Linked DNA regions of Homo sapiens. The protein of the gene in region 6 interacts with the protein of the main gene of each other region in a pairwise test. Each region holds a gene or a part of one and is shown on either strand. Other genes may lie near its edges.

Region 1 (3,500 bases), on a different chromosome or scaffold from region 6:
TTAAAACATTCCAAACACCTAACTGGGCAGACTTACAAATCTTGTAAATAAAATCTTGATAAACACAGCTGTTATAAATCTAATGAATTGGACTTATAAATTTAGTAAATCAAATTACCCTTCTTATCTCAGAATACAGTCACCAGCTAAGGTGGCAGGCTTATGTAGCATTTCAGCTATCTTTAAAAAAAAAAAAAGAGTGAAAGAAGAGTATTGATTTAAAAACTATGGCTATGCCTGTGTTCTAGTTGGTCACAAATTAGTTTTTGTTTTAGTTTTTCATTATTTCTGTACTTAATTTAATTTCTCTAGAGCTACAGTAATCCTACATGTTTTTTAAAAAAAGGAAAAATACCATTTCAAATAAGCCAAGGTTATACGCCCGGATTATTTGCTGATTAATCTTTTTACCCAAAGAAATTTGAACTTGACTATACCAGATGGACCCTAATTCTCTTTTCTTAGGCACTTGCCAAGACCCCAGGTCTTACTTTACTCAGTGATGAATCACTTGCATGAAAACCTTCTAGGCTACAGTTGCACCTGGTTTTGTAATGGTTTTGACATGAGACATTATTCAGATAGAAGGAATTGTTTCCGTTATTGGCTCTAATCAGTTTAGTAGTTCCCATTGATCTTCATGCCCAACATTCTAAATCTCCCAGTAAGGAGGGTAGGAGTGAAAGTCAGGGAGACAGTGCAGCTATGAACTAAAGTTTTCATGGGCTCTGTTTCTGTTGGAGAGATGCCCAGCTGGGGTATGGGAGGCCCACGTGTCAGTGATGGGGAGTTAAAGCAAAAGAGGAGGTGAAAAGAATCAAGGGAGGAGACGTTGGATGGGAGGAGAATAAAGTGGGATGTAGGTGATAAAGTAACAGTAGAGAACACAAAGAGAAGCAAGCAGTCAGCAAAAGAAAAACAGAAGAGGCATGAAACTGTATATGGAAAAATTCAAAATATTTCACACAAAAAATTAAAAAACAGGAGAGGAGAGAGATGAAGAGTCAGTAGGGGGTCGAGATAGCAGGAAAAAATAAGCAGCAGCAGAAGAAAAGATATAAAAGCAAGTGAACTACAGAGAGAAAAACAGAACATTTTTAAAAAGAGGGAGCTAGCAGAACAGTAGGAATAGAAATAACCAGAAAAAGTTTAGCATTTCAGATTTTTTTTTTTTTTTTGAGATGAGTTTCGCTCTGCTGCCCAGGCTGGAGTGCAGTGGCACGATTTCGGCTAACTGCAACCTCTGCCTCCTGGGTTCAATTGATTCTTACGCCTCAGCCTCCAGAGCAGTTGGGATTACAGGTGCCTGCCACAACACCCACCTATTTTTTTTGTATTTTTCCTAGAGACGGGGTTTCACCATGTTGGCCAGGCTGGTCTCGAACTCCTGACCTCAGGTGATCCACCCGTTTCAGCCTCCCAAAGTGGTGGGATTACATGAGCCACTGCACCCGGCTTTTTTTTTTTTTTTTCTTTGAGATAGAGTCTTGCTTTGTCTGGCCCAGGCTGGAGTGCAAGTGCAGTGGTGCAGTCTCAGCTCAGTACAGCCTCCACCTCCCAAGTTCAAGTGATTATCCTGTCTCAGCCTCCCAAGTAGCTGGGACTACAGGCATGCACCACCACACCTGGCTAATTTTGTATTTTTAGTAGAGACGGGGTTTCACCATGTTGGCCAGGCCGTTCTCAAACTCCTGACCTCAGGTGATCTGCCTGCCTCAGCCTCCCGAAGTGCTGGGGTTACAGGCATCAGCCACTGTGCCTGGCCAGCATTTCAGATATTTATTGTTTGTCATATCTGGGGCTCTACTGTATCCAGCACTTGGGCATTTCTTTCCTCTGACACTGCTCATCTTGTCTGAATGATTGTGATAGAATTTCAGATTACCATAGTCTTAACCAGGCAATCAAACCAGGCTGTTTTCCTGCCCCCAATATTGCTTTGTACCACCCCAACATCCTTGTCCCACCCACTCATATCATTGGTTGGATGGTCATCCTATAGAATATTTCCCTCTCATGGGTGCTAGTCTCTCCCCTGCGCAGTAGCAGCAGTTATAACCTGAAGCTCACAGCACCACTGCTTATTTCTGAGCTGACATCACCAGTGGGAATACCTCCCTCCTCTACAGGCTTGCCACCCATTCCTGTTACCCTTTATTTCACTTGCCTTATTTCTTGAGCTTGGTTTAATTGACAAACACTTCTTAAGGGTTCACTGTGCCAAAACTGGATTACATGGGTGCACATTTCAAGGTTAAGGAAAGTGAGTGTGCAGAGGAGACAAACATAAAGAACTATGATGTTACTGATAGCAGGACCCCTTTTTGACACCATTAGGTTCTGAAGCAATGTAAAGCATCCAGAGACTAATCAGTGTCATAAAGCTTCAGGGTGTTTTGAAGTTCTCATGATATTTTCTGGCATTGTGGAGCAGGCTATGCCATAACTCAACAAGGTCAGCTTTCCTTGACACAATGCTAAGCTGTTCCCCTGACACAAGGGTAAGAGTTTGCCATGTACAGTTTCTTTTTTTATTCTCCTAGTGTAGCTGTCTATCACCATAGCAGCTCCCCTCCCCTAAGGGTTCATCTTTCCTTCTGGCCCCTCACAACATCATCAGTCAGCCTGAAAGTTGCTGCACACATTCAGAGCACTGACTGTATTCCAGGCAATATCTGAGTAGTTGACATAGAGTAACTCCATTAATCTACTCATGGCCTTATGAGGTAGATACTATTAGTATCCCTGTTTTAGAGATTGGGAAACTGAGGCACACAGGAGTTAAGTAGCCCAAAGTCATGGAGCTAGTTAGTGTCAGAGCAGAGATTTGAAACCAGGCAGTCTAGCTCTAGAATCCATGTTCTTAACCTGTATGCTGCAGGACCTCGCAGTGTTTCATATGGTTTTGGCTGCTGTGGCTGTCTTGGCAGCCAGTGTTACCCTTTCTGTCCGTGCTTATCCTTTCTTTGATATCCAGCATCCTCAGACACAGAAACCTCAGTTGCTAGATCTTTGTTTACAGGTAGCAAATCACCCTAATTAACTGGTGGGTTGCAAGCAAATCCACACTAAGTAGCTAAGGTAAGAAGGCAAGCCTAGGGAGAGGCTTGTGTCCTTCATAACTGGTCTTTGTTGCAAGGGCAGTCATCATACAGCCAGCAGGAGCACTGTCTGGAGATTGGCCCTCCCTGGCATGAGGCAGCGGGCAGCGGGGTTAAGTGTCTAATGGAGGCAAGTGGAAGTGCTGGAAAGACCACGAGTCAGTGGGTTCTGCCATAGGTAGAGGGGAGGGCAAAGCCCCAGCTGAAGAACCTAGAGAGGAGAGGTAACATGTGATGGGATTCTCTTCTTTGATGAAGCCATTTTGTGGAGGTGCTGAAATCACATACTTCGTTTTATGACTTGATGATCCTATTCTTTTTCTAGGCCAGAGAAAGCTAACATTTGTATTTTCTGTTTCTTGGTTCAGGTGCTGAAACCAAGAACCTACAGTTACTGGT
Region 2 (3,206 bases), on a different chromosome or scaffold from region 6:
TGGTTGGATCCAGTCAGTGTTTTTCATAGTACATACAGTCATACCGGTGGATTGTCAAATCAATTTAGCGGGTCACTACCAGCATTTTTTTTTTTTTTTTTTTTTTGAGATTGGAGTCTCGCTCCTTCACCCAGGCTGGAGTGCAATGGTACAATCTCGTCTCACTGCAACCTCCACCTCCCAGGTTCAAGCAATTCTCCTGCCTCAGCCTCCCAAGTAGCTGGGATTATAGGTGTGCACCACCATGCCCTGCTAATTTTTTGTATTTTAGTAGAGATGGGGTTTCACTGTATTGCCCAGGCTGGTCACGAACTCCTGAGCTCAGGCAATCTGCCCGCCTCAGTGTCCCAAAGTGCTGGGATTACAGGCGTGAGCCACCATGCCTGGCCAGCATTTTTTAAATGATATAAAATAGTATTGAAAATATCAGAATGTGGCCAGGTGCGATGGCTCACGCCTGTAAAATCTTAACACTTTAGGAGGCCGAGGCGGGCAGATTGCCTGAGCTCAGGAGTTCAAGACCACCCTGGGCGACATGGTGAAATCCCATCTCTACTAAAAATACAAAAATTAGCCGGGCATGGTGGTATGTGCCTGTAATCCCGGGTACTCGGGAGGCTAAGGCCAGAGGATTGCTTGAACCAGGGAGGCGGAGGTTGCAGTAAGCTGAGATTGTGCCACTGCACTCTAGCCTGAGCAGCAGAGTGAGGCTCCATCAGCAAAAAAAAAAAAAAAAAAAAAGATCAGAGTGCATCACACATAATTAAGGTAGCTTATGTTTTGTGAAACTTTGTGAGTACGGGTTGTCATTTTTAATGTAGCCCTAAATGTTTTTTAGGGAAGAAAAAGTTGGCTTTTAATAAGTATTCAGTGAGAATGAATTTGAAGGGTGTGGAGAAAAGTGGAATAGCCAATTTAAAATAGGAATACTCCCAAGTCCCCTGTTATGGATGTGCCAATCTATTGTTTATCCCAGAAATATTGTTTCATGTGTTTTACAGATAACAAGTCTCATTTTAATCAATACTGTTGCATTTCCTGGTCTATAGAATACAATTTTCAAACACTAGCCAACTTACCTTAGAGAAATACTGGTTTTCTAATGTGGGCAAATAAATACATTCAGTATGAATCCCTTAACAAAATGACCTCATTATGCTACCTCTTGGTAAAATCTAACCAAGCATGAGTCTTATGATTAAGAAAGAAATTTGCTCTGTAGGTGCTTCAGACAGTTTTACAACCAATAAGAATGTGAGATTTGTCGGAGAAAAACTATCTGCATGTCTCCAATCTGAAGAGAGCAAAGATCTGTTATTTGACAAACCCTATTTTTCCGAGCATCAACAGTCAGTGGCACCATGAAAATTAAAAACCTGATAATACCACCAATGTAGTACTCTTTAAAAACATGTCATCTTACTCAGCAATCAACCTGATTGAATATTTTAAAATGAATAAGTGGATAAATATCTTACCTGAAAGATAGCTTCATTAAATAAACTAACTCCTGAGAGGATTTCTTTGGCCTTTAATATCCTATTTAATAGATTTCTTATAACCATATCAGCAAAGCCACTCTGCTCTGGACAATGGTCAGAAGGTAGGAAGAAGTGTTATAGGGTAATGAGCAATAATAAGGCCACCAAATATAATCCCATTGTAATGGGATTCTACCCACTTGTAGAAGTTTATTCACCACTACAAATTACTAAAGTTAACCTAAACAATTAAAGAAAGAAATCTTAGTCTTTAAGAACAGAGGATTGTAAAGTGAGCCAGACCTTCCAATCAGCTAAAATAATGTAAAATAATGTACTTTTCAACCTGACTTGGCTTAATGTAGTTAAGTAAATTTTAGGATAGGTTCTAAAAAACCTTGAGAGGCATTTTGTTGTTGTTGTTGTTGTTGTTAGTTTGCCTTAAAGTTAAATGTACATTGACCTTTGGTATTTCTTAGAAAAACCTGTTACTGAACCTAGTACAGAATGTGAATCATTTCATGCCTGAAATACAAGATTGATGTTTACAGGGCAATTGTCCAGAATCTTGCTGAATTGGAAAGTATTTCACTCTTCATCACTGTAGATCCGTTTAACTTTACAAATGTGTTATTTAAAACATAAACCATTTTGGTGCACAGGAAACCCACTTAAAATTAAATTTTAAAAAGCTCTCGAGAAGTCTGTGGAACATTTATGGTTTTATAACTTACAATTTCTAGCAAAAGTATCTTTAATATCTTACAAAATATTTTCAGAGATAGCTTATCCAAAATATGTAATACATGTGAGAGAATAGCACTGTTGAAATGCTTGAACACATAAAAAGCATTATTGCCTTCATTTTCCCTGAAATGAACCAAGCTACCAATTTAAAGCTGGGAAAGTCAGTACCAGAGTTAAAAACAAGTTACTTTAAAGATATCTGCTTTTACTTTAATCTAAAAAATAATTGATTTTTTAAAAAACTTATTCTATTTTATGTATATAACTTCTCCTTTATAAGCTTAGAAAAATTTATATCAGTATTACATTCTTGATTCTCTCAAGGTATGATTTAAATGGTGGACACTTAAGCCAAAATTTCAAACAGGTTCTTTTTTCTTTGTTCTTTTACAGAATGGCTCTCAAGTCGAAAGAGGGCTGTGCCTTTGGTGTTTGGGTATGATATATTTGCCTGTGATTTCTCATTCTCAGAGCATTCCCATAAATAATGCCACAAAGTAGAGTTTGATTTTTTTTTTTTTGAGACGGAGTTTCGCTCTTGTTGCCCAAGCTGGAGTGCAATGGCGCGATCTCAGCTCACTGCAACCTCCGCCTCCCAGGTTCAAGCGATTCTTCTGCCTCAGCCTCCCAAGTAGCTGGGATTACAGGCATGCGTCACCACACCCGGCTGTTTTTTTTTTTCGCATTTTTAATAGAAACGGGGTTTCACCGTGTTAGCCAGGCTGGTCTCGAACTCCTGACCTTAGGTGAACTGCCCGCCTCAGCCTCCCAAAGTGCTGGGATTACAGGTGTGAGCCACCGCGCCCTGCCTAGAGTTTGATTCTCTTAAACCGTTCTACTAAAATACTATCAGTTTAAACTACCATCTACAGAAATAAAAAACATAAACCACTAAAAGATTAAAGCATTTAGGAGTTTATATGCAAAGAAGTCTTGCAAGGGAGTACAAGCTTTAGGAGGACAGGCTTATCAAATTAA
Region 3 (3,500 bases), on a different chromosome or scaffold from region 6:
GGTGCAGGTGAGCAGATGGTACTCCCATTGCCCTGCAGGTGTACAAGCAGAAAGTGAAGCACCTGCTATATGAGCACCAGAACAACCTGACAGAGATGAAGGCTGAGGGCACTGTAGTCATGAAGCTGGCACAGAAAGAGCACCGCATACAGGAGAGTGTGCTGCGCAAGGACATGCGGGCACTGAAGGTGGAGCTCAAGGAGCAGGAGCTGGCCAGTGAGGTGGTGGTGAAGAACCTGCGGCTGGTAGGTGTGGCGGGGGCACCTGGAGGCTGACAGGTTGTTGGGACGGCAAGCCTAGTGCTGCATGAACTCCTGTTTATTCAACAGCAACTGGGAATTCATATTTCTGCATAAGACTTTCTGCATTTTTGCAATTTGTTGAAAAAAAATTTTTTAAAGCATGCATCCAAACAAACCCCATTTTGGGACCAAGTACACAATTCTGTCTCAGACCTGAGCAAAAAATTGACGTCACCGAAGAGAAAAAATCCAGCTTAGGATCTTTCATGTGCTGCTGACACCTGACACCCAGAGACTTTTCCTAGGGAATAGCATCATATGCATTTAGTAGAATGCAAACCAACCATTAAAATATCCAGTGTGTTGACTCCTGGGCACTGTGACAGTTTGTCACACAAGCTGGTCTGATTTTTACTTTTGAGGCTGGGGGTTTCCAGGGCACCATTAAAATTCATCTGTGCACCTGGTTCAGTGGCTCACACCCAAAATCCCAGCACTTGGGAGGGTCAGGTGGGAGAAGTGGTTGAGGCCAATAGTTTGAGACTAGCTTGGGTGAAATAGTTGAACCCCATGTCTAAAAAATTTAAAAGAAAACATTAGCTGGTGTAGTGGCACATGCCGATAGTTTCAGCTACTTGGGAGGCTGAGGCGGGAGGATCCCTTGAGCTCAGGAAGTCAAGGCTGTGGTGAGCTAGGATTGTGCCACTGCATTCCAGCCTAGGTGACAGAGTGAGACAAAACAAAAAGGAAAGAGATCATTTGCTGAGTGTCCATTAGCTGCTAGGTCCTGATCTGATCTCTGACAAAACGCCTGCCCGACTGGGGCTGTTGGTCTAGAAAGGAGAGACAACAGGTGAGTTGGAAGACAAAATAAACGTGCCAGATACAACAGAGTATCTGGTGGGGAAGAGTGCCATAGAAGGATCGAAGTGGGGAGAGGTGGGGTGCGGTTTTGTACAAGCAGTTGACCGGCTGGGAGACGGGATGGGCCAGTGGGAAAGCTCAGAGTGACCAGGAGGAGACTGTGGGAGAGGGTCAGAGCTTGTCCGCCTCGAAAGCCGTGGTGGGGACTGGAGACGGGTCAGAGCTCGTCCGCCTCGAAAGCCGTGGTGGGGACTGGGACTTTGACCCTGGTGGAGTCTGTTGCCCTCTGAGAACTTGGGCAGAGGAGAGATGTGTCTCACTAAGGTTCTTCCTGGCTGCTGGGTTGAGGAGACTTTCTGAACACATTTGCCTCACGCCTGGAAGCAGTCCAGCCTCCACTGAATCTGGAAGAAACTTGGTGACGTTGCTGACTTCGCAGCAAAGCCTGAGAGTGCCGAAGTCTTGAGCCCTCCAGAATTAGCTGGTCTTAACCCAGGTCCTGGATATGATATTGTTACATAATCAGAGTTTCCTGTTGGGTAAAAATATGGCTTTAGGCCGGGTGCGGTGGCTCACGCCTGTAATCCCAGCACTTTGGGAGGCCGAGGAGGGTGTATCACGAGGTCAGGAGTTTGAGACCAGCCTGACCAACGTGGTGAAACCCCGTCTCTACTAAAAATACAAAAATTAGCCGGGCGTGGTGGCGCACACCTATAATCCCAGCTACTCGGGACGCTGAGGCAGAAGAATCACTTGAACCTGGGAGACGGAGGTTGCGGTGAGCCGAGATTGTGCCACTGCACTCCAGCCTGGGCGACAGTGTGAGAGTCTGTCTCAAAAAAAAGAAAAATTACTGCTTTAAAAATAATTTATTTTTTTATGCAAATTTTAAATATATAATGTTTATTTAAATATATAATAATTGTTCATTAAAACTATATATTTATTTATTTTTAGAGATGAGGTCTCACTCTGTCTCCCGGGCTGCAGTGCAATGGTACAATCATAGCTCACTGCAGCCTCGAACTTCTAGTCTCAAGTGATCCTTCTGCCTTAGCCTCCCAAGTAGCTGGAACTATAGATATGAGCCACCACACCCACCTAATCTTTTTTTTTTTTTTTTTTTTTTTTTTTTGAGATGGAGTTTTGCTCTTGTTGCCCAGGCTGGAGTGCAGTGGCACAATCTCAGTTCACCACAACCTCTGCCTCCCGGGTTCAAGCTATTCTCCTGCCTCAGCCTCTCGACTAGCTGGGATTACAGGCATGTGCCACCATGCCCGGCTAATTTTGTATTTTTAGTAGAGACGGGGTTTCTCCATGTTGGTCAGGCTGGTCTTAAACTCCCGACCTCAGGTGGTCTGTCCAGCTCGGCCTCCCAAAGTGCTGGGATTACAGGCGTGAGCCACTGTGCCCGGCAATCTTTAAATTTTCTGTAGAAGATCTTGCTATGTTGCTTAGGCTGCCCTTGAACTCTTGACCTCAAGTGATCCTCCTGCCTTGGCCTCCAGCGTGCTGGGATGACAGGAATGAATCCTTTTAATATGCTGCTTCAGGCAGCAGTGCAGCAGGTTGGAAGCTACACACGGCACCTGGAAAGATCCCACAGCTCTGTGTGGATGTGGCTGCTGCTCTTCAGGCTGTGGGATGGTTTGGCGATGGAACCAAGCGGGTTCAGTGCTCACGACGTCTGTTCATGTTCTCTCTCAAGCTTAGAGGTGACTTTAGTTGAGGGAGGTGAGTTAGGGAATATGGAGGTGACCAAAACCATGAGGAACAGGGTCAGCCTGAAGGGAGCGGGCTTCCCTCTGTGTCCGGCTGTGTAGTAATGGCCGCTTCTCCCTGTGCAGAAACACACCGAGGAGATCACCAGGATGCGGAATGATTTTGAGAGGCAAGTTCGAGGTCAGTTTCCCGTGTGCTCATTGTGTAGGTGCCAGAGACACCCCCGCCCCATCAGAGAGGAATTTACCTCCAGAGCTTGTTAACTCAGGGAGCAAAAACTGGATTAAAACAGCCAAGGCATGCAAGAGAAAGAACATGGAAGTTTCCAAGGCCAGTGGACCCACTCAGAATCCCAGAACAACCTATTTCCATGTGAGTTTGGGAGGCTGTGATTACCACACACATTCCCACTCCTAGCTAAAATCAGTAGTTATCAGCAGGTGGTAGCTATTCAGTGCCGTGGGCAGCCTTCTTAAAATAGTCTTCTCCATGGCTCCTGGTCTGAGAAGGCTCCAATTTCAGAAGTCTCTGTGTTTTACTAATAAAGGCTGATTGTGGCTGGGTGGCCACACAGGCCTCGGTTACTGCTCACTGGGGTCAGCTGACATTCAGCTGTTGGCACCCCCAGTGCAGGGAGCGATTAGCAATGCCTGTCACTGGCAAAGGCAGGCC
Region 4 (2,463 bases), on a different chromosome or scaffold from region 6:
CTATACCGTGATAGGAATTTGGAAAGCCAGGGATCAGGTTTGTGAATCCTACCCAATGGCTTGTCATATTGATACCAACCCTTACCTGTCTTCTGGCCAAATCGTCCTAATTCACAGAGCACATCAGGAATTGGGCAGTACCTCCTATTACCCCTTTTTCGGGCAGGAGTTCCTGGAAGCAATGTAGGTCCAGTAAGACCTTGCCCCTTTCTAGATTTCCAGCCCACATCCAACCCAGCAAGATCAGACACTCTAAAAGGTCCCATTTTAAAACCAAACTCTTCCAGCACCTGATCTACCTCCTCTGGTTTGCTGCCTTCTTCTAACAAGAAATATGCCTGATTGTAGTAAGGATTCAACATTCGATTCCCCACAAATCCAAAACAGTTGCCTACAACGACTCCAATCTTTTTAATCTTTTTTGATAAGTTCATAACAGTGGCAATGGTAGTGGGGGAAGAGTATTGGCTGGGAATAACCTCTAACAACTTCATGACATGAGCTGGCGAAAAGAAGTGGGTGCCAATGACCAAGTGAGGACGATCAGTGGAAGAAGCAATCTCATCAACATCCAGGGCTGAAGTATTAGTGCACAAAAATGCTTCTGGTTTGCACACAGCTGAGAGTTCAGCAAAGACCTGCTTCTTCAGGCTCATTTCCTCAAATACTGCTTCAATGACTAAATCTACACCACCAAGCTCCTTCACAGATGAAGTTAACCTGGGTTTTGGTCCTGACCAAGGGTGGCCGCTCTGTTGCATTTTGGAGGCTTCTTTTTCCAAGACAGAGGTTATCATCTTGTTTGCAGTTGCTAGCTGGTTTTTGTCCGAGTCTACAGCAATCACAGGAATCCTGGCCCTTGCAAAAGAAATGACAATGCCTCGGCCCATTGTTCCCAAGCCTGCAGATAAAAATCAAAGGAGAAAAAGAATGATTCAGTGGTATTGGGAACTGATAAATTATTCACTGGATGGAAGGCTTATGTGACAATGTGGCATTTAAAGAGATTGAGTCAAGAAACACAAATGGATTGAGTACTAGTTAAGACTCTGCACTCTCTTAAGTGTTTCAGAGGATATAAAAATTAGTCAGATTCACACACACAAATAGAAGCTATACAAACTAATAAATGAGTCCAACGAGATTGTAGGTACACAATTGATATACAAAAATCAAGTATATTTCTATATATTAGAAATAAACAATCTGAATATAAAATTAAAAGAAACAATTCTACTTACAATAGCATCAAAAAGAATAATACACAGGAAGAAATTTAACAAAGAATAGGAGGATTTGTACACTAAAAAGTACAAAACATTGTTAATAGAAATTAAGTAAGACCAAATAAATGGAAAAACATTAAATGTTTTTGTATCAGACAACTTAATATTGTTAAGGTGGTAATACTACCCAAATTGATGTGAAGAACCAACACAATTCCTATAAAAATCCCAGCTGGTTTTTTGCAGAATCAATAAGCTGATCCTAAAATTCACATAGAAATGCAAGAAATCCAGAAGAGCCAAAACAATACTGAAAAAGAACAAAGTTGGAGGATTCACTCTTCCCAATTTCAAATTGTATGACAAAACTATTCAAGGTTGGGTGAGGTGGCTCGTGCCTGTAATCCCAGCACTTTGGGAGGCCAAGGTGAGAGGATCACTTGGAACCAGGAGTTTGAGACCAGCCCAGGCAACACAGTGAGACTCCAACTCTATAAAAAATTAAAAATTAGCCAGGGGGCCAGGTGCAATGGCTCACACTTGTAATCCCAGCACTCTGGGAGGCCGAGGTGGGCAGATCACCTGAGGTCAGGATTTCAAGACCAGCCTGACCAACATGGAGAAAACCCGTCTCTACTAAAAATACAAAATCAGCTGGGTGTGGTGGTGCATGCCTGTAATCCCCACTACTTGGGAGGCTGAGGCAGGAGAATCACTTGAACCCAGGTGGCAGAGGTTGCAGTGAGCCAAGATCGCACCATTGCACTCCAGCCTGGGCAACAAGATTGAAACTCTGTAACAACAACAACAACAACAACAACAACAACAACAACAAAAATTAGCCAGGCATGATGGTGCATGCCTATAGTCACAGCTATTTGGGAAGCTGAAGCAGGAGGATATCTTGAGCCCAGGAGTTTGAGGATTGCAGTGAGCTATGATCACACTACTGCACTCCAGCCTATGTGACAGAGTGAGACCCTGTCTCAAAAAAAAAAAAAAAAAAAAAAAAAAAAGAAGCCTATAGTATTTAAGACAGTGTAAGATAGTGGTCATTGCAAAAGGATAGACATATAGATTAGCAGAATAGAACTGATAGCCAAAAGCAAACCCACACAATTATGGCCAATTGATTTTTAACAAGAGTGCCAAGAACATTCAACAGAGAAAGTATAGTCTTTTCAACAAATGATGCTGGGACAACTGGATATCCACATGCAAAAGAATGAAGTTGGAC
Region 5 (3,198 bases), on a different chromosome or scaffold from region 6:
TGCAAAAGCCCTTCTTGTGAATCAGTTGAAAGATAACCTCCCTCCACACCCCTAATTCCTAAATCTCATAATGTGGGCAATCCTTGAATCCACCAAGGACTTTAAATACTTCACAGTCTTGTTTCTCTGATGTGGAATCTGTTAGATTATGGCTCCATTCATAGAAGTATGTCATTTGTCCCTTAATATCCTCAGGGATTGGTTCCAGGACCCTGCAGATACCAAAATCTGGATGCTCAAGTCCCTGATAGAAAATGACATAGTATTTGCATATAATCTATGCACATCCTCCTGTATACTTTAAATCATCTCTAGATTACTTACAATACCCAACACAATGTAAATGCTATTTAAATAGTTATTATATGATATTTATTTGTATTATTTTTAATTCTTTTTTTGTTGCCGTTTTTTTCTGAATATTTTTTAACCAGGGTTGGTTGAATCCATGGACACATAACCCATGGATACTGACTGTGATTAATATTTGTGTTGTCTGCTTACTATGGGACCAATGAGATTTTGCAGGGATTTTTGTGTTGTTTGTTTGTTTTGGTGATTTTATTGAGCTTAACAGGTGTTAAGTTACGTAGATTTCAGTAAGACCTTTGGCAAAGTCTTTCCTTGTAAACAAGGAAATGTGTGTGTTAATGAATTGCACAGTGAATAGGATTCATTGCTGGTTACAAACTCTTCCCAAGATCGTTTTGGAGAGAGCTCAATCGTGGTGTGTCTCAGGTCTCTGCCCTTGCCCTGGCCTGTTTGCGCACGGTATTGAGTATTTGGATAATGACTTAGAGGACATGTTTACCGAGTGGTGGATGAGAAAGCTAAGAAGAATAACTAAAGCTAAATGTCGACCAAGGATTCTGAAAGATCACAGACTGAAGGATGAGTTGAAAGAGACAGGATGAAATTGAATAGTGATAGTTGTTTTCATCAGCTTAAAAAATCTAACTATAAAGTTATACACTGGAGAACTGGCCAAACTGCTGTAGAGACAAAAGGCACTTGAATTTTGTGAGATCGGTGGGAATTAGGTGTGTGTATTGTAGTTGTCTAAAAACAGCTAAGGGTCTTGGTTACAGTTGCCAAGATACAGAACAAAAGTAGTGCAGTGACTACTTCTAGTGAATTCTGCAAGAATGGCCAGGTCACGCTTGGAATGTTGTACTCAGTTTTTACTGACATATTAAAGTGGTTTTATTGTGTAATATTTGGTACATACAAAAGAATACATGTAAAACACAAGTTATAAAGTAAGTAATAAAATGAATGTCTAAAAGCCTTACTCCCAGTTTAAGAACTAGAACATTCTGAAAACCATTGAAACAATATTGTCCTTCCATACTCCAGAAGTAACCATTACCTTGCACTTAAGTTTGTCATTTCCTTTCTTTTTGAAAAACCGTTCCACCATGTTATATGTGCATTTCTAAGTAATACATTTTTTACTTGTTTTTGAATTTTATGAAAAGGATGTCACTGAAGGTAGTAACACTTCATGCCACTTGCTTTTTACTTTCGACATTGCTTCTAAGATTCATATACATCGGCCTTTCCCAACCAGAGCCCCTCATCTTGACCACAGAACACAGAAAATAATTGGAGTGTATTTTCTCAGTCCTCCAAACATGATACATAAATAGTCTCCTAAATTTTAGATGCATAAGGGAGAAGTTATCTCGTTACATACAATGGATGCCTTAGGCTGGGCATTTGGAGCTTAATTCTCTATTGGAACCTGGTTGAGACTGGCCGAATTGTTACATGTAGCTAGAGTTAATTCATTTTTACTGCTGTAAGATATCCCATTTGTGAGCACACTAAAGTTTTTTTCATATGTCCTCCTATGGATGGAAATTTGGGTTGTTACCAGTTTTTTGGTTTTGTTATTGTGAACAGTTCTGTGATGAACATTCTTGTGTGGACCTGCAGGTGCACAAGAAAAATTTCTCTAGGCATACATCTGAGTGAATTTGCTTGGGTCTGCTGCATTTTATGGGGACATTGACAAACTGATAACGAGTTCAGAGGAAGGCAGTTAAGAATAATTTAACCATGTCATAACCAACCTTTGTTTTCCTTATTTTCTTAGGGATTGAAGAGGTTAATGACCATTTGCCAGAAACACTTTCCTACAGACCCATCCAAATGTGTGGAGTACAATGCACTGTGAGATCTGTGTATGGTGTGTTAATAACAATAAGAAACTTAGGGAAGCAGGCTGTGGACTTCTGGAATTACCAACAGGAATGAGGAAAGAAGAAAACTGGAGTTTCCAGTCTCTGAGTTCTACCTGATGTAACTCTTGATTGGTTTTAAGAACTTTGTTGGCCTTCATTTCATATCTGACTGCAAGCTGATTTTTCTTTCTTGCTTTCATTTTAATTAGTCCAAAATTAAGTTTTAAAGATTTTTCCTCACAATTTAAATCCATAGACAACAGAAGGGGGTTTAAAATGACCTTTTTTTCAGTTGACCCGAAAGTTGTGGTTAGATGATTAAAAAGAAACATTTGAGGATGGACTTAATTATTTCAGTAAAATATTATAATTTGCCTATTGTCTTTTATGTAATATTTATATAAAATATTTTTATATATTTCAAAAACATGGGACCATTGAATGAAACTTTATAGTCCTTAAATGTTGCTGAACTTTTGCTGTCTTGCAATAGAATTTGAATGTAAATATTATTACTGGTATAACTCAAATGTTATTTTTCTTGCATTTCAAAGCTTGCTTTTATCTTCCAAGAAGTGTAAATTTTAGTATTTGTCATCTCTCAGGACAGATACAATTAATAGGAAATAGAAGTTTGAAGAAACAGAGATGGCACATCATAGCAAACTAAGTTCAAAACAGAATAACCCCAGTGCATCAAGGTTAAGGTGGGACAGTGGTTTGTGATGCCAGGGAGAGTGGGGAAATTGTGATGATGCTGGTAGACCTGGGCAGACTGTGTTCCCAGCCACACCCGCCAACAGAGGAGGAAGGTGCTGGTACTGATGTCCCCACCCGAGAGTCTGTCCTGGCCTTGGTTTTCCACAGTGAGGGCTCGTTCTAATGTTGCACAATGTCATACTCAGATATCACTGTGACCTGTTACTATGCTTTAGAACCCGAGAGGCCTCTGTTCACATGGCAGCATGTGTGAGTGGATGCTCCCGGAGCAGGTGGAGTGGTGGCGCTGGAT
Region 6 (3,500 bases):
AATTAGCCGGGTGTGGTGGCACGTGCCTGTAGTCCCAGCTACTCGGGAGGCTGAGGCAGGAGAATCGCTTGAACCCGGGAGGCGGAGGTTGTAGTGAGCCAAGATTGCACCACTGCACTCCAGCCTGGGCGACAGAGCAAGACTCTGTCTCAATTTAAAAAAAAAAAGTTTTATATCCACCCTGTGGCCCTGCTTTGCCTTAGCCTCTACCACTTATCATCTGCTGTTTCTACAGCCGCCTCCCTGGTCTCTTCACTTCTAGTTTCTTCTACTTAGTTCACACCACAGAGGCTGTTCTGACCTGCAGATCTTATGACATCACTCCTTTACTTAATACATTCCAGTGCCCCAGTCCTGCTCCTAGTTCAGAGCCCCTGGTATTCACATAACTGCTGGCTTCACTGACTGACTCCTCACTGCTTCCTGCCTCCAGCCTCCATGGTATCATGATTCTTGCAGAGTGAGGCAGGGGCAGACATTCTTCCATAAATCCAGCTTGTTTCCCTGCATCTGCCCTGGGCCAGCACTGGGCTAGTCGTAGAGACTTCCTACATAGTCCCCTTCCTCCTCCAACTCCTCCCAGGAACTGGAAGTGCTCTCAGAGAGAGCTACGTTAAACCTGCCACCACCCCTTATTCATCAAGACATTTCAGCTTAATTGTTCCTTCGACAAATAGTTACTGAGTACCCACCACATGCTCTATGTTCTGGAAATACAGTTGTAAGCAGCACAGAATGATCTCCACTCTTGGGTAGCTTACATTCTGGGGGTGGGATGAGGAGAAAGATGATAACAGTAAACAAATAATACTAGTAGTGATAGCTGACATTTATATGGTGCTTACTGTGTGCCAAGTCCTGTTTGAAGTACTCTACATTATTCACTCATTTAATCTTTGAAATAAGCCTATGAGATATTAGTATCCCTATCTGACAGATGAGGAAAACTGAGTTCCAGGGAGATTAAGTAATTTGTCACACAGCTAGTAAATGGCAGAGCAGAAATTCACATTCAAGCAGTCTGGTTTCAGAATCTGTGCTTGTTACAAAAGAAAATTTTGATTAGTACTAGGTAAGAAAGAAATGAACAGTGCTGTGACAGAGAGTACTGGAATTTTCTGTGTTGAGGGATACTACTTTAAAGGCAACATCTGAGCAGAGCACTGAGGGATGCAAAGAAGCCAGTTAGGTGAAGAACTGGATGAGAGGATTGGTGTTCTGGGTAGAAAATATTGCAAGCAGGCCGGGTGCGGTGGCTCATGCCTGTAATCCCAGCACTTTGGGAGGCCGAGGCAGGTGGATCACCTGAGGTCAGGAGTTCAAGACCAGCCTGGCCAACATGGCGAAACCCCGTCTCTAATAAGAATACAAAAATTAGCCGGGCACGGTGGCGCATGCCTGTAGTCCCAGCTACTCAGGAGGCTGAGGCAGGAGAATCACTTGAACCCGGGTGGCGGAGGTTGCAGTGGGCTGAAATCGTGCCACTGTACTCCAGGCTGGGTGACAGAGCGAGACTCCATCTCAAAAAAAAAAAAAAAAAAAAAAGAAAGAAAATATTGCAGGCAATAAAATAAAAATTCTCTGTAGGCCTCGATATTCTCATCTGAAAATGGGGACAAGGAATTTTCTCAGGACTGCTTTGAGAAGTGTACTTCAGCCAGGAGTTGGGCAGGGGGCTGGCTTAGTTGTATTGGCATTGTATACCTCTCCAAGACTAACGGCTGGCAATGCAGGAGCTGTCATCAGTGTTGGCCCTGGAAATGCCCTGCGAGCTCTTTGTGGTGCTTAGGATGAGAGGGAGCTATCTCTGGGCCCAGGATCCAGCCCTCCACAGAAGAGGGGTTGCAGTGAGGCTGTCTGTAGCACTAACAACTTCCAGAGGAGCCTGAGGTCTTGGATTGCATCTCTGAGGTTGGGAGTAGGAAGAGGAAAATGGTTTTTGGTGTCCTCATACTTGGTATGCTCTTGGTATTCTCTGACTCTGCCACTTAAAAGATGTGTGAATTTGAACTTGTTTAACATCTCTGTGCCTCAATGTCCTTATTTGTAAAGTGGGAGGGCACCTATATCATAGGGTCATTATGGGAATTAAGTGAATTGTAAAGTACATGGACAAATGCTATGTAGGTTTCAGCAAATACTGCTCTGATTCTCTGCTTCTCTGCCCCTTCTCTTCCTCTGTTCAGCTCTGCAGCCAGATGGAACAGCTGGAGCAAGAGAACCAGCAACTGAAGGAGGGGGCTGCAGGAGCAGGGGTTGCCCAAGCTGGGCCCCTCGTGGATGGGGAGCTGCTGAGGCTACAGGCTGAAAACACAGCCTTGCAGAAGAACGTGGCAGGTGCATAGAGGCCCTCCTGGGGATGCGGAGACATTGGGGCTTGAGTAGGGCAAGGAAGGCCGTCATCCTCTCAGGGGAAGGAGAAGGGCTTCAGAAATAGGGTTGGCCCATGCCCTGTGTGGCTTTGGACAAGCCATTTCACCTCTCTGAGCCAAAGCCTTATCATCTACACAGTGCATGTAGTGATGTCTGTCACCCAGAAGATTGTAGTAGAGATAAAAGGTGATATCATTCTGCATTAGTTCAGTGTCTGGTACCTAGCAGATGTTACAGATTAGCAGCTTGAATGTCAAAAAGGAGATATTTGCGGCCGGGCGCGGTGGCTCACGCCTGTAATCCCAGCACTTTGGGAGGCTGAGGCGGGCGGATTGCGAGGTCAGCAGATCAAGACCATCCTGGCTAACATGGTGAAACCCCGTCTCTACTAGAAATACAGAAAATTGGCCGGGCACGGTGGCGGGCGCCTGTAGTCCCAGCTACTCTGGAGGCTGAGGCAGGAGAATGGTGTGAACCTGGGAGGTGGAGCTTGCAGTGAGCCGAGATCACACCACTGCACTCCAGCCTGGGCGACAGAGCGAGACTCCATCTCAAAAAAAAAAAGGAGATATTTGCTAAGTGAAAAAGTGAATGGAGTGTTGGGAAGATTCTGAGCCCAGATTGTAAGTGGGGTCTGGGATGAAAGCTGAAAGAAAGCTTGATAGAGTGTGGGAGCATGTGGTGTGTGGAACTTTGGAGAGCAGCTGGGACTTCTGTGGTGATGGATGCTGGTTCCATGACCAGGAGGGAGACTTAGTAGAATGTGAGTAGGAATTAGGAGGCTCTAGGAGGGATTCAGCTGTAAGTCAGTGGTAGCATATGGTGGGCATGGCCTTCAAGGGCTATGGGTGGGGCTTCAAGGATTGAGAATGGGATTTGTGAAACCAGCTTGGGCTAATTTAATAGTAAACAGAATCTTAGTGGTTGATAGGGCTTAAAATATTTGTGAGAGCCTGGGCACAGTGGCTCATACCTTGATTCCAGCACTCTGGGAGGCTGAGGCAGAAGGATCTCTTGAGGCTAGGAGTTTAAGACCAGCCTAGGCAACATAGCAGGAACTTGTGTGTACTAAAAATAAAATAATTAGGCCAGGCACGGTGTTTCACACCTGTAATCCTAGCACTTTG
Region 7 (3,781 bases), on a different chromosome or scaffold from region 6:
AATGACATTAGTATTAACCAACATCAGCAGTCTGTATTCTGTAAGGAATTGAGCTCATACAATGAATCACCTCGAGTATTTTTTAAACACAAAATTACAACAATTTATAAATGTTAATCTTTAAAATGCACTTGAGAATGATTGTCCCAAAGGTTAAGTGGAAGCTTTTTCAAAAAACAGATCACAAGGAACTATGCCAACCCTTTCCTAAAAATTTCTATAAAATTCAAAGGAAGAAATAAACAGGAAATCTAGTTTACAAATGAAATTTAATATAGTAGTCGTATATTTATAGGCCAAGAGCTCATACGTAAAATGTGTGAAGGAACACAATGGTCAGATATTGAGATGCTGGCAACTGCTCATCTGCCAATGCTGAATTTGGTAATTCCTCATTTATACAGAGGGAAATTAAGTACCAAAGGGCTAGAATAATTTACTTATTGTGGACAAAAAAGTTAAGGACAAACTAAACTTAGTCCAGATAATTCTCAGATCCTCACACACATAAAACAACTTGCATTTATTTTATTTTTATTATTTATTTATTTTTTCGAGGCCAAGTCCCCCTCTGTCACCCAGGCTGGAGTGCAGGGGCATGATCTCGGCTCACTGCAACCTCCATCTCCCAGGTTCAAGTGATTCTTATGCCTCAGCCTCCTGAGTAGCTGGTACTATAGGCGAGCACCACCACGCCTGGCTAATTTTTGTATTTTTAGTAGAGATGGGGTTTTGCCATGTTGACCAGGCTGGTCTCAAACTCCTGAGCTCAAACAATCTGCCCACCTCAGCCTCCCAAAGTGCTGGAATTACAAGCGTGATCCACCATGCTTGTCCTTGTATTTCTTTTAACAAGAGAAAGACTGTGTCTCTTCTGTTCTCCTTTGTCTTCAAGAACTGATTTTTATAGTTTATTAAATATTAAAATTACATAGCTTGTTATAAATTAATTTGTATTTTGCAGACAATAACCATTATAAATATCACTTAGATCTGCAACTATTTTTTATTAACTTTACTGTTTGCATTAAAAAGACAGCACTTTTCGGGTACAGTTAGATAGTCCAATTCAACAGTAAGAACCATTTTAACTCCTAAAACTGAACAACTGTATTAGTTATGAACACTAGATACAAGTCATGAAACTCCAGCTTGAATTTACTTAGGCAAAAAGAGATTTTATGAGAAGGATATCAGAATATTTCATGTACATAAACAAGAGCAAGGCCTGGAGTCTTATACAGCTTGACCCCAGGAACAAGGAAGCGAAGCACCCTCCCTCCCTCCCTCCCCTTTTGTGCTTTTAGTGGTTCCGTTTCAGTCACCTCCATTAGGGTGTGGGCTTTCTCACATGGTGACCACCAGCAGCTTCCAAGCCCCTGATCCACAGCTTCTACTGGCAGAAATAGTCATCTACTCTTTTAGTGCCCATTCAAAAATCCTAAGGACAAACCCATCTGCCTGCCTTGAGCTGCATGACTATATCCAGGAAGATGGAATACCCTTAGTCACAGACCACCTAAAGGGCATGGTTAGAATCCAAGTAGAAACAATTCTCCACAAGAAGCAGGGCAGGCTGCTGGACAGACAAACTGAGAATAATCAAGTAAAACAAAACAAGCACAAACTCTGAAAGCTCAGGCAATGCCAGAAAGGTCAGGTGACACAAGGTTGAATACCGAAAGTTGGCATTAAAGCATTCTTTGAGTGAGAGAGACAGAGAGAGATTTATCTATAGTTATATTTTACTTCTATGTCCCAGTAAAAATAACAAATAAATAACTTTAAAACTTGGTAATACATCATTTTTCTCTCCCCTCTCTTAGATGTTTTTCTGTCACCTTCCCCTGTCATTTGTTTTGGGTCTATAAATTGCCCCTCAAAACTTATGCAAAGCATAATGTGTTCATCAGAATTGTTTCAGGGTTGTATGCGTTAGTTTTAGGATCCAGAGCTTCGCGTGTGCTTTTTTTTTTTTTTTTTTTTTTGAGATGGAGTCTTGCTCTGTCACCCAGGCTGGAGTGCAGTGGCAGGATTTCGGCTCACTGCAAGCTCTGTCTCCTGGGTTCACGCCATTCTCCTGCCTCAGACTCCTGAGTAGCAGGGACTACAGGTGCCTGCCACCACGTCTGGCTAATTTTTTGTATTTTTAGTAGAGGCAGGGTTTCACAGTGTTAGCCAGGATGGTCTCAATCTCCTGACGTCTTGATCCGCCCGCCTCGGCCTCCCAAAGTGCTGGGATTACAGGCGTGAGCCACCGCGCCCAGCCCTTGCGTGTGCATTTCTTTATTCCGGATTCGCAGCATCATCTTTTGGGCTTTGGGAGTCTGATGTAATTTCCAGTTCATACTCCTTTTTCAATTGCTGCACTTTCATGTTTAGGTCCAGTAAAGTTCTAGCCAGCTGGTGGTTTTGGAAATGCATTTCCACCTAAAAGTTAGAAAAAAATAAAAATTTTATTAGCCTGAGATGCAGATCAAATGAAACCACTCTCTGACTACACAGAAGAAATAAGAAGTTTGTAGGAAAAGAAAATAAGATATCAAGGAAGATGTATTTCTCATCTTATTCTCCAGTTTTAACTGTTTGGTCTGGCTATAAAACTGACTTTCTATATGACAAGGTAAAATCCAGATATATAAATAGTTTTTGAAATGGCTTGAAATGAAAACAAAAGTAGCTGATGCACAAAGCTGTCCATATGAAAAATACCTATGCACCGAAGGCTGTTTTCAAGGAATAGCATGTGATCCACAATGAAATCATTTATCTTTATGCGCCTTCTGAGCCACAGGATAACTGCCTACAGCCACCTGAGTATTCAGAATCTGTGCTATTTACTTGATTACTTATCATTTCAAGTTTTCAGGATTTTAAATGGTCTACCTGCTGAGCAAAAACATTTAATGACACCTTAGAGACACATGTATAGTTATGTGTACTTATATAATCTAACATTTTTCACTCTGGAGTGAAATCTGTTTCATATCAAGGCTGATTTATACCATCCTTCAATGGGAGTTTATGAAGGTCCTCGTGCGTTTAAAAAAAGATCTCTAGGGCATGTTACCCGGGGGCAGTCCAAGAAAGCTTAGTCCAACATAATCTTTGTATTATAACTGAAAACTAATGATCAACTACTTGCAAATTTCTTCAGCTAGGGCTTGTTTAATGCAGTTCACGAGGAATTTGTTCTCTCTGCTAAAAAAGCTTCATCAGCTTGTCAATAGAAACCACCCCAGGATGAACCAGGACAGTGTGTTGGTAAAAAGCAAATATTCATGGTCATCTGATTTGCAAAATAAAGCTACTGGATAAAATTATCTTTCAGTTTTTCTCTGAGACATTCCTCTCCATTCTGAAGCACCTAGAATCATTTTTCTGACAGCAAGAATTAGCAAAGAATAAAGTAAATGAATATCCAGCAAACAAGCACTAACAGTAACCACACAACCACCACAACAAAAAACCCTTGCACCTTGCCTGCAGGAAGCTTCAGCTCTCTAGGGTGGCCCAGATGCTCTATAATCCTGCCCTACTTTGAGCTTCCTTTCCTGGCCCTCTTTCCCATGCCAGCTCCCATTGCAGCTGGTCAGAAACCTTGCCAGTCCCTAAATAAATGCTGAGCTGAAGCTCACCTCTTTCTGTCCCCATTTCTGTTTAAGATGCCCTTTGCCACCTCTCTCTGCTGAACCCAGTCAAATGCCAGCTCTTCTGAGAAGCCCTCCCTGATTGCATGGGCAGACATAATTGCCTCTCATCTGTGCATCCACAGCACTCT

The links.
Region 1: the proteins of GRIPAP1 (region 6) and ZNF35 interact in binary tests that used the Homo sapiens proteins (3 or more experiments, as listed by UniProt).
Region 2: the proteins of GRIPAP1 (region 6) and CEP57L1 interact in binary tests that used the Homo sapiens proteins (3 or more experiments, as listed by UniProt).
Region 3: the proteins of GRIPAP1 (region 6) and DRC4 interact in binary tests that used the Homo sapiens proteins (3 or more experiments, as listed by UniProt).
Region 4: the proteins of GRIPAP1 (region 6) and EHHADH interact in binary tests that used the Homo sapiens proteins (3 or more experiments, as listed by UniProt).
Region 5: the proteins of GRIPAP1 (region 6) and PRPF18 interact in binary tests that used the Homo sapiens proteins (3 or more experiments, as listed by UniProt).
Region 7: the proteins of GRIPAP1 (region 6) and AARD interact in binary tests that used the Homo sapiens proteins (3 or more experiments, as listed by UniProt).

The regions. Positions count from the first base shown.
Region 1 is NC_000003.12:44,655,232-44,658,731, forward strand, and holds part of ZNF35 (zinc finger protein 35), read left to right. Parts: intron 1-3,469; coding exon 3,470-3,500. UniProt on the Homo sapiens protein: May be involved in transcriptional regulation. Involved in cell differentiation and/or proliferation.
Region 2 is NC_000006.12:109,168,507-109,171,712, forward strand, and holds part of CEP57L1 (centrosomal protein CEP57L1), read left to right. Parts: 3' UTR 1-3,206. UniProt on the Homo sapiens protein: Centrosomal protein which may be required for microtubule attachment to centrosomes.
Region 3 is NC_000016.10:90,032,680-90,036,179, forward strand, and holds part of DRC4 (dynein regulatory complex subunit 4), read left to right. Parts: intron 1-38; coding exon 39-245; intron 246-2,953; coding exon 2,954-3,008; intron 3,009-3,500. UniProt on the Homo sapiens protein: Component of the nexin-dynein regulatory complex (N-DRC), a key regulator of ciliary/flagellar motility which maintains the alignment and integrity of the distal axoneme and regulates microtubule sliding in motile axonemes.
Region 4 is NC_000003.12:185,192,587-185,195,049, forward strand, and holds part of EHHADH (peroxisomal bifunctional enzyme), read right to left. Parts: intron 902-2,463; coding exon 1-901. UniProt on the Homo sapiens protein: Peroxisomal trifunctional enzyme possessing 2-enoyl-CoA hydratase, 3-hydroxyacyl-CoA dehydrogenase, and delta 3, delta 2-enoyl-CoA isomerase activities. Catalyzes two of the four reactions of the long chain fatty acids peroxisomal beta-oxidation pathway.
Region 5 is NC_000010.11:13,628,162-13,631,359, forward strand, and holds the end of PRPF18 (pre-mRNA-splicing factor 18), read left to right. Parts: intron 1-2,098; coding exon 2,099-2,179; 3' UTR 2,180-2,698; downstream 2,699-3,198.
Region 6 is NC_000023.11:48,992,265-48,995,764, reverse strand, and holds part of GRIPAP1 (GRIP1-associated protein 1), read left to right. Parts: intron 1-2,186; coding exon 2,187-2,337; intron 2,338-3,500. UniProt on the Homo sapiens protein: Regulates the endosomal recycling back to the neuronal plasma membrane, possibly by connecting early and late recycling endosomal domains and promoting segregation of recycling endosomes from early endosomal membranes.
Region 7 is NC_000008.11:116,941,207-116,944,987, reverse strand, and holds the end of AARD (alanine- and arginine-rich domain-containing protein), read right to left. Parts: intron 2,431-3,781; coding exon 2,287-2,430; 3' UTR 501-2,286; downstream 1-500.